2 separate regions of the Homo sapiens genome follow, and region 2 is linked to region 1. A link means that fine-mapping ties the variant in region 1 to the plasma level of a protein whose gene starts in the linked region. Region 1 holds a variant in brackets. A gene starts in the other region. All regions are shown on their reverse strands.

Region 1 (8,515 bases):
CTCAGTGGAGCTGTCTTCTACCTCCTGGGATGGAGAGGGGAAGGGCAGGGGCCTCTGGCTGCCATGACTAGTCCTTCAGGAAAAGCTGCTCTGTTCCCATGCCTGAGCAAACTCAGGCAGCTGTGCCCTTCCCAGCTTCCTGAGGCCCCTGCTCCATCTGAGGCTCATGAGACCTCTTCATTCTCAGCCAGGACTAGCGACTGCTCACGCGCGCACGTGGCCTTGGGTAGGGGGCAGCGTGAGTGGAAACCTTAACTAAAGGGGTGAGTATCTGATGCTGGAATTGCAGATAGTAAGTGAGGTAGAAAGGAAAGGGGAGAGAGGCATTTAGGAAGGGCCTCCTAAGGGCCCTTGAGTCAGGCCTGCAGGCAGCCCCTGGTGTGAGGGCAGGGGGAGGGTGCCAAAGTGAAAGCACACACACCCTGGCCTGCTGGGGGTTGCAGAACTGTCAGCCCCAGGGATCTGGGCATGGCCTGGAATCCCCCGAGGAGACTGAAGGAAGGTTGAGGGGTGGGAGGCTAGGATCCTCGTCCCTGGAGTCTGACACTGCTAGACACCTGGGCTTGGGTGGGCCAAAGGCAAGGCCTGACTATAGTGAGGCAGAGAGGCCCCAAGTACACAGAATGTAAGCAGGCACTCACACCATAGGTGCCTCTCTTGCCTTGGATTCGTCCAGGCACTGCCCAGGAGCTCAAGACACAAGGGCAGCCACCCTTACCCACTGCTTATGTGGCATATGGGAATATACAATATAAATATATTCTTATAATTGTATATAATAATGTTTATATATATGTAACACATAAATGTGTATTAATTCAACCCTCACAACTCTTTAAATTATCCTTAGTTGACAGATAAGATGAAAGGCAGAATAGTTGGAACAGATAGTAAGTTTGCCTCACTAATAACTTGTACACAGTCCATACTCTTAACCACGATGCAACACAATTATCACCAACACACACACACACACACACACACACACACACACACACACGAAAAAGGCCACCAGGTACTCACCCAGTTTCCTTATCAGGAACCGCCCCACAGCAGATTGGCCACAGCTGTGCCTCTGCCCACGGCCAGCCCTGTGGGATGCAGGTGGATCTCGTGAGGTCAGGGCCCCTTTTATAGCCCCATCACCACAGCTGGCTCTGTCTCCCGCCACCCACACCAGCTGTCCCACTCACCATGGAGAAGATCCTGATCCTCCTGCTTGTCGCCCTCTCTGTGGCCTATGCAGCTCCTGGCCCCCGGGGGATCATTATCAACCTGGTAAGAGGGTCTTCAGGGGAGGCGCCTCCTGAGTCCCCAGATGAAGACTTCCTAAGCTTGGACCTTGACCTCTGATGTCTCCACCTGGACTGGCAGGGGCTGGGAGGAGTGGCATCTTGCATCCCTCTGTTTACTTCCATGTCCTGTCCTATGCCTCTTCCCAGAGGCCACAGGAAAGGCTGATCAGCCCCTCTCCAGCTCCAACTGGAGCATGCTCAGAGCAGCAGCTCAACCTGGCTATGAGGGACCTTTTTTTTCTTTTTTTTCTTTTTGAAACGGAGTCTTGCTCTGTCACCAGGCTGGAGTGTAGTGGCACAATCTCGGCTCACTGCAATCTCTGCTTCCCGGGTTCAAATGATTCTCCTGCCTCAGCCTCCCAAGAAGCTGGGATTACAGGTGCCTGCCATAACGCTCAGCTATTTTTTGTATTTTTAGTAGAAATAGGGTTTCACCATGTTGCCCAGGCTAGTCTCAAACTCCTGACCTCGTGATCCGCCCACCTCGGCCTCCCAAAGTGCTGGGATTACAGGCATGAGCCACCTCACCTGGCCCTACGAGGGAGCTTTGTAAAAATCCAGAGCCCTGGGCTTCCATCCTGAGAAAATGCTTTGCGCCAATCATTCCAGCTTCTGACTTATGGAGATGCCTCGGAGATGTTTACTCATTCTGTTCTCATAATAACCACTGAGGGAGGTGTTTTCAGAGTCAGCCCTGTCTTCAGACAGAGAGAGGGTGAGCAACCTGCCTGAGGTCACATAGCTGGAAAGTGGTTCAGCTGGGGCCCCACCACTGCCCCACACCACCTCTCCACCATGGGTCTTGGCTGGGAAAGCCCTTCCAGAACGTCCATGCGGTTGAAAGGTTCTGAACTCTCTTAACTTGGGGCCATGGCTGGACTTGGAGGTCCAGGACCCTTGGAGATTATAGATCAGATCTGTTGGGGGAGGAAGGAGTCTTGCAGGGAGATGCAATCTTCACCGCCTCCTTAAAGAGGTGTGGGACCCAGAGTGGTTTGGAGAACTTGTCTAGGGGCCTTGTGTGCACATTCCAAATGGGAACACTGAGGCTTGGGAGGCAGTGACTTGCCCAGAGTCACACAGGAGGTTGGTAGCACAGCCGGTACTAGAACCCAGGGGTCCTGACCCTCTGTGCAAGTCTGCTTCTCTGTCACCGCATGCCCACTTCTCACGTGGGTGGGGGGCACAGAGGCCACCAGACCCAGGGGATGGACTCCTTCACACACATCCCTACCAGGGGAGACACTGTTAGTGGTAGTGTGTGGTGGGTACAGGTCTGAATGGAGAAGGGACCTGAGGGAGTGGGGCCTGGGCTGACTGGCTGCTCCTGGCAGGAGAACGGTGAGCTCTGCATGAATAGTGCCCAGTGTAAGAGCAATTGCTGCCAGCATTCAAGTGCGCTGGGCCTGGCCCGCTGCACATCCATGGCCAGCGAGAACAGCGAGTGCTCTGTCAAGGTGGGTGCCTGAGGACTTGGCGTGGGTGGGGGAGAATGGGGAGTAGGGCCCTGAACACTTGTGAGTGGGATCAGGGAGGGGGGTCAGCCTGGACACTGAATGTTGAGGAGACGAGAGGGAGGTCGACAGGTGTCAAAGCACTTTCCCATCCCATCATCTCTCTTGACCCTCCCGAGTGACCAGTGAGATGGGTGGGGGTGGGGATTTGTTATCCCCATTTCATGGCTGGGTAAATAGAGGCTCCCCAGAGAGATCAAGCTAGTAAGAGCAAATGAGCCAGAGCAGAGGTCAGAGCTGGGGTCTCCAGGGCCCACGGCACCCCTGGGGAGGCAGGTGGGAGAGGCACTCCCCGAAAACACAGGCTGGCCTACTGGTTCTCTAGGTCAGGCAGGGGACAAGTGATGTCCAAAGTATCTCCCCATAGCCTTGACTCCATTGGCTGTGTCTCTGCAGACGCTCTATGGGATTTACTACAAGTGTCCCTGTGAGCGTGGCCTGACCTGTGAGGGAGACAAGACCATCGTGGGCTCCATCACCAACACCAACTTTGGCATCTGCCATGACGCTGGACGCTCCAAGCAGTGAGACTGCCCACCCACTCCCACACCTAGCCCAGAATGCTGTAGGCCACTAGGCGCAGGGGCATCTCTCCCCTGCTCCAGCGCATCTCCCGGGCTGGCCACCTCCTTGACCAGCATATCTGTTTTCTGATTGCGCTCTTCACAATTAAAGGCCTCCTGCAAACCTTTCCCAGTCTCCTGCATATTCTTTCTGACTCAGCATCTTCTCTGAAGTTGCATCAGGCCTTTGGTCCACCAGGGCAGGCTTCAGGCAGGTCAGAAGAACAAGGGATGGGTCTGGGGCTGAAGAAGTTGTGGCCAAACAGATTGGAGACTGAAGACAAAGCTGTGAAGGAGACCCAGCCAGCCTAGGAAACCCTCCATTTCTGGGGAGAAGTCACACCTACCTGGGATGCCCTCCTTGTCCCTCCGGTTCTCAAAGAGACAAGCGGGCACATGTGCATGCGCGCGCACATACACACACACACACACACACACACACACACACACTTGTGGGTAAGGAGTTTTAATGGCCCATGTTCGTCACCCTGCATCAGAGGCATCAGAATCCTGGGCTCTCACCTCTTTTCTGGACACAATTCTCAAATATGACAGCTAGCTGACACAACTCATGTGTTAAGGGGTCAGACCACTCTCAATTGCTATGAGCTTACTCTCTGCCAGCAAATGCTCACAAGGATCCCAGGAGGGAGAATTTCTCATCTCCACTTTATAGATAGAGACCAAGTTTCAGAGAGGAGCTTGCCCAATGTCACATAATCAGAAAATGTTGGCACTCTACCATCTAACTCCACTGCCCTGCTTCTATGATTCCTTTTTTTTTTTTTTTCTGAAACAGAGTCTCTCTCTGTTGCCCAGACTGGAGTGCAGCGGAGTGATCTCTTGGCTCACTGCAACCTCCACCTCCCAGGTTCAAGCGATTCTCCTGCCCCAGCCTCCCCTAGTAGCTGGGATTACAGGCGCCTACCACCACGCCCGGCTAATTTTTGTGTTTTTAGTAGAGACGGGGTTTCATCGTGTTGGCCAGGCTGGTCTCAAACTCCTGACCCCAGGTGATCCACCACCTCAGCCTCCCAAAGTGCTGGGATTACAGGTATGAGCCACCGTGCCCGGCCTTATGATTCCTTTTTCTTTCCCAATTATTCGCATTAAGAAAAATGGGTGGAAACTGCAAGGAATTTAATTTTGCCTTAATATAAAAATTGTATATCCCCTGGAGCCATCAAACATGAGTTACCTTAG[G/T]CAGTACTGAGGTGCCCATCATCCAGGTACGCAGGTGGAAGCTCACTGACCCCTCGGTGGAGATGCTAGAGAGGAGATTCCCACAGAGAGTGAGGGACAGTGAACTGAATGAAACTTCGATGTCGTCCCAGCCCCAGGATCTTGCAGTTCTGTGATCAATGAATCCTCCTGTAACCACAGGCTTATGAGTTAGGATTGCATTCAACTGTGAGTAGCAGAAAAACCCAAGTAATTATGGCTGAAGCAAATAGGAACGTATATTTCTCATGAATCCAAAGCAAAGACACAGGAAGTGCTGGCATTCTTTTGGTGGCTGGTAGCTCTTGACCTTCTCTTCAAGGTTGCCACATGCCTTAGCAGCAGCTCATGACTTCACGTTCTCACCGTATTCGAAGGCAGGAAGCATGGAGTAGCTGGCAGCTGGGAAGGCGGGAGAAGGAGCAGAGAGTTTCTTCTTGCATACCCTTTTTTTTTTTTTTTTTGAGACAGAGTTTTGCTCTTGTTGCCCAAGCCAGAGTGCAGTGGCACGATCTCGGCTCCCTGCAACTTCTGCCTCCTGGGTTCATGCGATTCTCCTGCTTCAGCCTCCCAAGTAGCTGGGACTACAGGCGCCTGCCACCACGCCTGGCTGATTTTTTGCATTTTTAGTAGAGACAGGGTTTCACCATGTTGGCCAGGCTGATCTTGAATTCCTTACCTCAGGTGATCCACCTGCCTCGGCCTCCCAAAGTGCTGGGATTACAGGCATGAACCATGGCACCTGGACCATACCCTCTTCTTATCTTTCCTCAAATCCTCAAGGCCGACTTCTCTTCATATCTCAGTGGCTAGAACTAGGTTATCTGACTACTTCTAGCTGCAAGGGACGCTGGGAAAGCAAAGGGAATAAGATCCTTCTCCTGGGGCCAGGTTCATTGATGCCCAAACAATATTGGGTTTCAGTTGGCAGGGAAGGGGGCAATGGCTATTAGGAAACCAGGTAATGGTGTCTGCCACATATGAATTATGTGCTCAACAAGAGGAGCTTTCAATACCTTAACCCAGGAGGGGTCTCAGGCCCTGAGCAGGGCTGAGTCACGCTTCTTGGTGCCACATTCGGTCCTGGAGATCTGCATTCATGTCCCCTTCATGTGTTCACTGAATGACCACAGTGTGCCTGGCACCGTGTTTTGGACTGTGGGGGGCATAAGGAAAATGTCCCTGGTCTTCAAAAGTGAGTAGGGAGTTGGGCTTTGGGCTCTGCAGAAGCAAGTGACCAAGACCCCAACCATTATGTAGCTTCCATTTTATTTCCAACGGCCAGTGCTCCTGTAGACTCTCAATTTCTGCTGCTTTTCAGCATCACACGCCTACACAGCAGAGGCACAGTCTAACCACAGCTCAAGGAACCAGATGGTCCCCACTTACAATGGTTTGACTGACAATTTTTCAACTTTATGATGGTGCAAAAGCAATATGCATTCAGTAGAACATCAATAAATTACATGAGATATATTCGACACTTTATTCTAAAATAGGCTTTGTGTTATTTTTCCCAGCTAATGTAAGCATTCTGATTGAGCACATTTAAGGTAGGCTAAGCTAAGCTATGATATTCAGTAGGTTAGGTGTATTAAATACTTTTTTTTTTTTTTGAGACAGGGTCTCACTCTGTGACCCAGGCTGGAATGCAGTGGCATGATCATGGCTCACTACAGCCTTGACATCCTGGGCTCAAGTGATCCTCCCACCTCAGTTCCCCAAGTGCTAGAACTATAGGCGTGTGCCACCATGCCTGGCTAATTTATTTATTTATTTATTTATTTATTTTTGTGGCGGGGGGAAGATGGAGTCTGTCTCTGTTGCCCAGAGTGGAGTGCAATAGTGCGATCTCGGCTCACTGCAGCCTCTGCCTCCCAGGTTCAAGCAATTCTCCTGAATCAGCCTCCCGAGTAGCTGGGACTACAGGCACATGCCACCACGTCCAGCTAATTTATTTATTTATTTATTTATTTGTATTTTTAGTAGAGATGGGGTTTCACCATGTTGCCCAGGCTGGTTGCGAACTCCTGAGCTCAGGCAATCTGCCCACCTAGGCCTCCGAAAGTGCTAGGATTATAGGTGTGAGCCTCCATGCCCGGAGTTAATTTTTATATTTTTAGTGGAGATGGGGTTTCACCATGATGCCCACACTGGTCTTAAACTCCTAGGCTCAAGCAATCCGCCCACCTCAACCTCCTAAAGTGCTGGGATTACAGGCACAAGCCACCACACCTGCCCATTAAATGTATTTTCTTTTTCTTTTTCTTTTTTTTTTTTTGGAGACAGAGTCTAACTCTGTCACCCAGGCCGGAATGCAATGGCACGATCTCGGCTCGCTGCAACCTCCGCCTCCCGGGTTCAAGTGATTCTCCTGCCTCAGCCTCCCGAGTAGCTGGGATTACAGGCGTGCCCTCCACGCCCAGCTAATTTTTGTATTTTTAGTAGAGACGGGGTTTCACCATGTTGGTCAGGCTGGTCTCGAACTCCTGACCTTGTGATCCGCCTGCCTCAGCCTCCCAAAGTGCTAGGATTACAGGCGTGAGCCCCCGTGCCCGGCCTATTAAACGTATTTTCAACTTACGATATTTTCAACTTAAACAATGTGTTTATCAGGATGTAGCCCCATCGTAAGTCAAGGAGCATCTGTACTTTATTCCCTACAAATCTCTCTGGATTCTGACAACGGCAGCCTCTACCAATGACCACTTTTCCCATAGGGCAGCGGAATCCCCATGGCTTGTGAAGGGGTCTAGAGAATGCCACTGAAGCATAAAAATTATTCTGAGCAGAAGGCATTTGAAAATGGGCCTTTTTCTTTTCTTTCTTTCTTTTTTTTTTTTTTGAGACAGAGTCTTGCTCTGTCACCCAGGCTGGAATGCAGTGGTGCGACCATGGCTCACTGCAGCCTCAACCTCCTGGTGCTCAAGTGATCCTCCTGCCTCAGCCTCCTAAGTAGCTAGGACTACACGTGCGTGCCACCACCGGCTATGTTGCTGTTGTTGTTTGTTTTCAGACACAGGGTTTCGCAATGCTGCCCAGGCTGGATGAGAATAGGCTCTTTTCTGAACTCCTTTGTCTGCCTAAATGCAGAGCCCTGCAAAAGAGCTCCATTGTCATAAATCCCCCTCCCAGGAGTTTCTCAAAACCAGGGAAAATTGACTTATTGCTGGAGGGGAGAATAGTTGGCACCACACCTAAACAGTCAGGTCACGAAACTATAATAGCTCCCATCTTTTCTCCTAAGGGCCCATTCATCTTTCCTAAAAATTACTTTTCTATAAGTGTCCTTTCTCCTCCTCCCCTTCTTCTATTGAGATGGTACATAACCCGCAAATTCTAACTTCCTTCTAGAGTCACACTCTTCCATGAACTTCCCTACATTCTGAATAAAAATCGGTCATTTCTCTTTTATCGGTTTAATTCTCAGGCCTTCAAGTACTGAACCTAAGAGGATAGAGGAAAAGTTTTCCTCCCCCAACACTTGGAACCAGTTTAGTCATGTCAGCAACGTATCTTCCCCAACTCCCTTTCTTTTTTGTTTCTTTTTTTTCCTTATTAGGCTAAAAACGTTTATTAAAAAAATTAACAACTTTGTTTTAAAGCATTTTATATTCCTGGATGAAAATATCCAATATTGGAAAAAAGTGAAATTTCAGCCGGGCACAGTGGCTCATGCCTGTAATCCCAGCATTTTGAGAGGCTGAGGCAGGATTGCTTGAGGCCAGGAGTTTGAGACCAGCCTGGGCAACATGGTGAGATCTCCCCCTCCCCATCTCTACAAAAATCTTAAAAATTAGTTAGGTGTGGTAGCGCACACCTGTGGTCCCAGTTACTCAGGAGGCTGAGATGGGAAAATCACTTGAGCCCAGAAGGATGAGGCTGCAGTGAGCTGAGATGGAGCCACTGCACTCTAGCCTGG
Region 2 (3,067 bases), not on the chromosome of region 1:
AATTGGGGCAGGGCCAGTTTGGAAGGTCTCTGCTGTGGGCAGTGGAGGGGCAGAGAACAAGGCAGAGCCCAGCTAGGCCCCTACCCAGCCCATCAACTTTAACCTCTGATCCCTGACCTCCCTTCCAGGCTCTCTCCCCACTTGTCACTTTGCTGGAGCCTGGGGACCTGCATTTGTGGACATCTCTGTACACATGGCCTGTGCCCTAGCTGGGAAGGTCTTCCCAATGGGGAGCTGGCCAGTGTGGCACAAAAGCCTGCACTGGGCCAACAAGGTGGAAGGAGAAGCGGCAGGTGGACGGCAAGGCCCCAGCCTCCTTCTCTCCTCCGCCCCTCTTCCCGCCCAGGACTGGGTGGAGCCACTGCCTTATAAGTGGTGGCCTGGTGGCAGCAGAGCAAACTACAACCGGCGGCCAGCGGGACCAGAGGGCGGCTCTGCAGGCAGGCGGCAGCGGTGCCCTCAGTTCCCCAGCATGGCCCCCTCGGCCTGGGCCATTTGCTGGCTGCTAGGGGGCCTCCTGCTCCATGGGGGTAGCTCTGGCCCCAGCCCCGGCCCCAGTGTGCCCCGCCTGCGGCTCTCCTACCGAGGTACCAGCCCCTGCGTGCCCTGTTTGTGTGCATGTGCCCTGTTTGTGTGTGTGCGCTCTGTTTGGGTGCATGTGCCGTGTTTGTGTGCATGTGCCCTGTTTGGGTGCGTGTGCCGTGTTTGTGTGCATGTGCAGTGTTTGTGTGCGTGTGCCGAGTTTGTGTGCGTGTGCCGAGTTTGCGTGTGCCGTGTTTGTGTGCGTGTGCCGAGTTTGTGTGCGTGTGCCGAGTTTGCGTGTGCCGTGTTTGTGTGCGTGTGCCCTGTTTGTGTGCGTGTGCCCTGTTTGGGTGCATGTGCCGTGTTTGTGTGCGTGTGCCCTGTTTGGGTGCGTGTGCAGTGTTTGTGTGCGTGTGCCGAGTTTGTGTGCGTGTGCCCTGTTTGGGTGCGTGTGCCGAGTTTGTGTGCGTGTGCCATGTTTGTGTGCGTGTGCCCTGTTTGGGTGCGTGTGCCCTGTTTGTGTGCGTGTGCCCTGTTTGGGTGGCTTGGGCTCTTGGGTGCCTGGTCAGCTGTAGGGGAGGGAGCCTCTCCCTGCACAGCTCTCGGGGAGTGGGAGGGAGGCAGGTCCTGGGAGACAGGACCAGGGTGGCGGTGGGAGGCACCTGAGGGGGAGTGCTGAGAAAGGGACAGATGGAGACCCTGAGAGAGCTCAATAAAGATGGGGAGGAGACAGAGGAAGGGACCAGGCAGGGGAGAGTGACAGAGAGGGTGGGGCTGAAGGGTCTGTCTGGGCTCAACTGGCACTTTTTGCCCAGGGTGGCCAACGGGAGAGCAGGCAGCATGCTATCCCTTGGTCCTGGGGCCACAGAGAAGGGGAGGACCCCCCTTGCAGCCCACTTCCCAGAGTGGGCTTGTTCATGTGCTCCTGCACCCAAGAAGCGCCCCAGCCCAGGGGGAGTTTCACCTCCCCTTTTTGCACATCCCAGCCTGGGGGTTCCTGTGTTCTACCCTAGACATGTGAGCCGGCTCAGGCCTCCACGGATGGGCCCAGGGAAGGCCCGAGACAGGCTCTTGGCAGATCCTTCCTGAGGAAACCAGAGGGGTGACCACCTTCCCCTGGGAAGCCCAGTCTGCTGGGGGAGATGGCGCTCGTCCCTGGAGAGGCTGAGGGGAATGTGGTCTTGTTCCGGGAGCTGTGGTTTTGCGGGGAGGTCAGACTGCTAGAAAAAGCCCCAAATAGGGAAAGTTCCCCAAGGTACTGTCATCCATGGAGGGCTTCCCGGAAGAGACCGTTGATGAGTTTTGGGGGTGGAATGGGTGTTGGGTAGAGGTGCTTCCGTAGGGAAGGCATAGGACACTCTGGGCCTTCCCAAAGGTGGCCAGCACCCTCTTCCTGCCACATCCTACTGCCCCCATTACCTCCACCTCCCTAGCCAAGCCCGGAGGACCTACCTCAGGATCCTCAACTCCTGGGACCGATGTCCCCAGACAGCTCCCCGCTCTCATCTCTGGGGTGGGATAGCCAGCATCTGTGGGGAGAAAATTGTCTTTGGCCGCATCCCTGGACTGGAGGTGGGAGCCCTTCCCGGCCATACCTTCCCTTTTCTGCACCCAGGCCATTGCCAGGGGTCCCCTCTGCTGGGAACAGTTTCGCCTGCTGGCCCACCCTCCAGCTGAGCCAGGCGGCCTGCAAAGACTCCCGCCCTTCCTCCAGGATCTTCCAGCACTTTGCTCTAGTTTCTGCTGGTTGGGGCCTTCTTCCCTGGGGACTGGGTAGGGCACAGATGGGACAGTGGGAAGATGTTAGCTGCATGATGAAGGGCTAAGGAATGGAGGGGTGGGAGGTAGGCCCCAGGGTAGGCTGGGCCAGGTGGGAGGCTCTGAGCCTCCCGTCCCACCTGTCCCCAGGAGCCATGGTCCGAAAGCCTTCCAGCACCATGTGGATGGAAACATTTTCCAGATGTGAGTGTGTCAGGGGTGGATGCTCAGCCGGGGCCTCCACCTCCACTCCTTGGCTGGGGAACTAGGCTGAGCTGTGGCCCTGATCTGCCTCCCCATACATCCTCCTAGACCTCCTGTCTGCCAACCGCTCTGCCATCTTTCTGGGCCCCCAGGGCTCCCTGAACCTCCAGGCCATGTACCTAGATGAGTACCGAGACCGCCTCTTTCTGGGTGGCCTGGACGCCCTCTACTCTCTGCGGCTGGACCAGGCATGGCCAGATCCCCGGGAGGTGAGCTGGACTGGCAGGGAAGAGGGTCTGTTTGAGAACTGGGCACCTCCAGATGGGAGGCCAGATGGGGAAACTGAGCCTGTGAGATCAGGGGAGGACCTGAGGTCAGCGGGGCTGTGTTCCAGGTCCTGTGGCCACCGCAGCCAGGACAGAGGGAGGAGTGTGTTCGAAAGGGAAGAGATCCTTTGGTGAGTGCTGTCGGGAGGGATGGTCCCCCGACCTGACACCCTGCCCTGACCCCCAGGACAATCCGTGACCACGCCCCAGGTACCTCTACCAGGGGCATTTGGAGCAGATCTTGAGGGCTTTTGAAG

Alleles and levels. Alleles are on the strand shown, and positions count from the first base shown. The strength of an association depends on the size of the effect and on how common the allele is.
As copies of G replace T in region 1, the plasma level of the protein whose gene starts at base 397 in region 2 goes down (moderate association).

Evidence for each region. PIP is the posterior inclusion probability: the model's chance that the variant is causal. The UK Biobank Pharma Proteomics Project read protein levels with antibody pairs (Olink). The fine-mapping took linkage between variants from a reference panel, not from the people measured, so its PIPs are less certain.
Region 2: it holds the start of SEMA3G, and the variant in region 1 is fine-mapped to the plasma level of the SEMA3G protein (UK Biobank, PIP above 0.99).

What each region holds. Positions count from the first base shown.
Region 1 is chr6:35,789,968-35,798,482 of GRCh38, reverse strand. It overlaps CLPS (colipase), which reads left to right and starts at 1,160. Exons shown (of 3, transcript NM_001832.4): 1 at 1,160-1,278; 2 at 2,630-2,752; 3 at 3,206-3,501. The coding sequence starts at 1,195. The coding sequence ends at 3,337. It also overlaps a transcript of CLPSL1 not described here. The variant G/T (reference allele first, on the strand shown) is at 4,576.
Region 2 is chr3:52,442,433-52,445,499 of GRCh38, reverse strand. SEMA3G (semaphorin 3G) reads left to right here and starts at 397. Exons shown (of 16, transcript NM_020163.3): 1 at 397-587; 2 at 2,593-2,753; 3 at 2,879-2,941. The coding sequence starts at 473. RefSeq lists enhancers at 1-423, 424-1,300.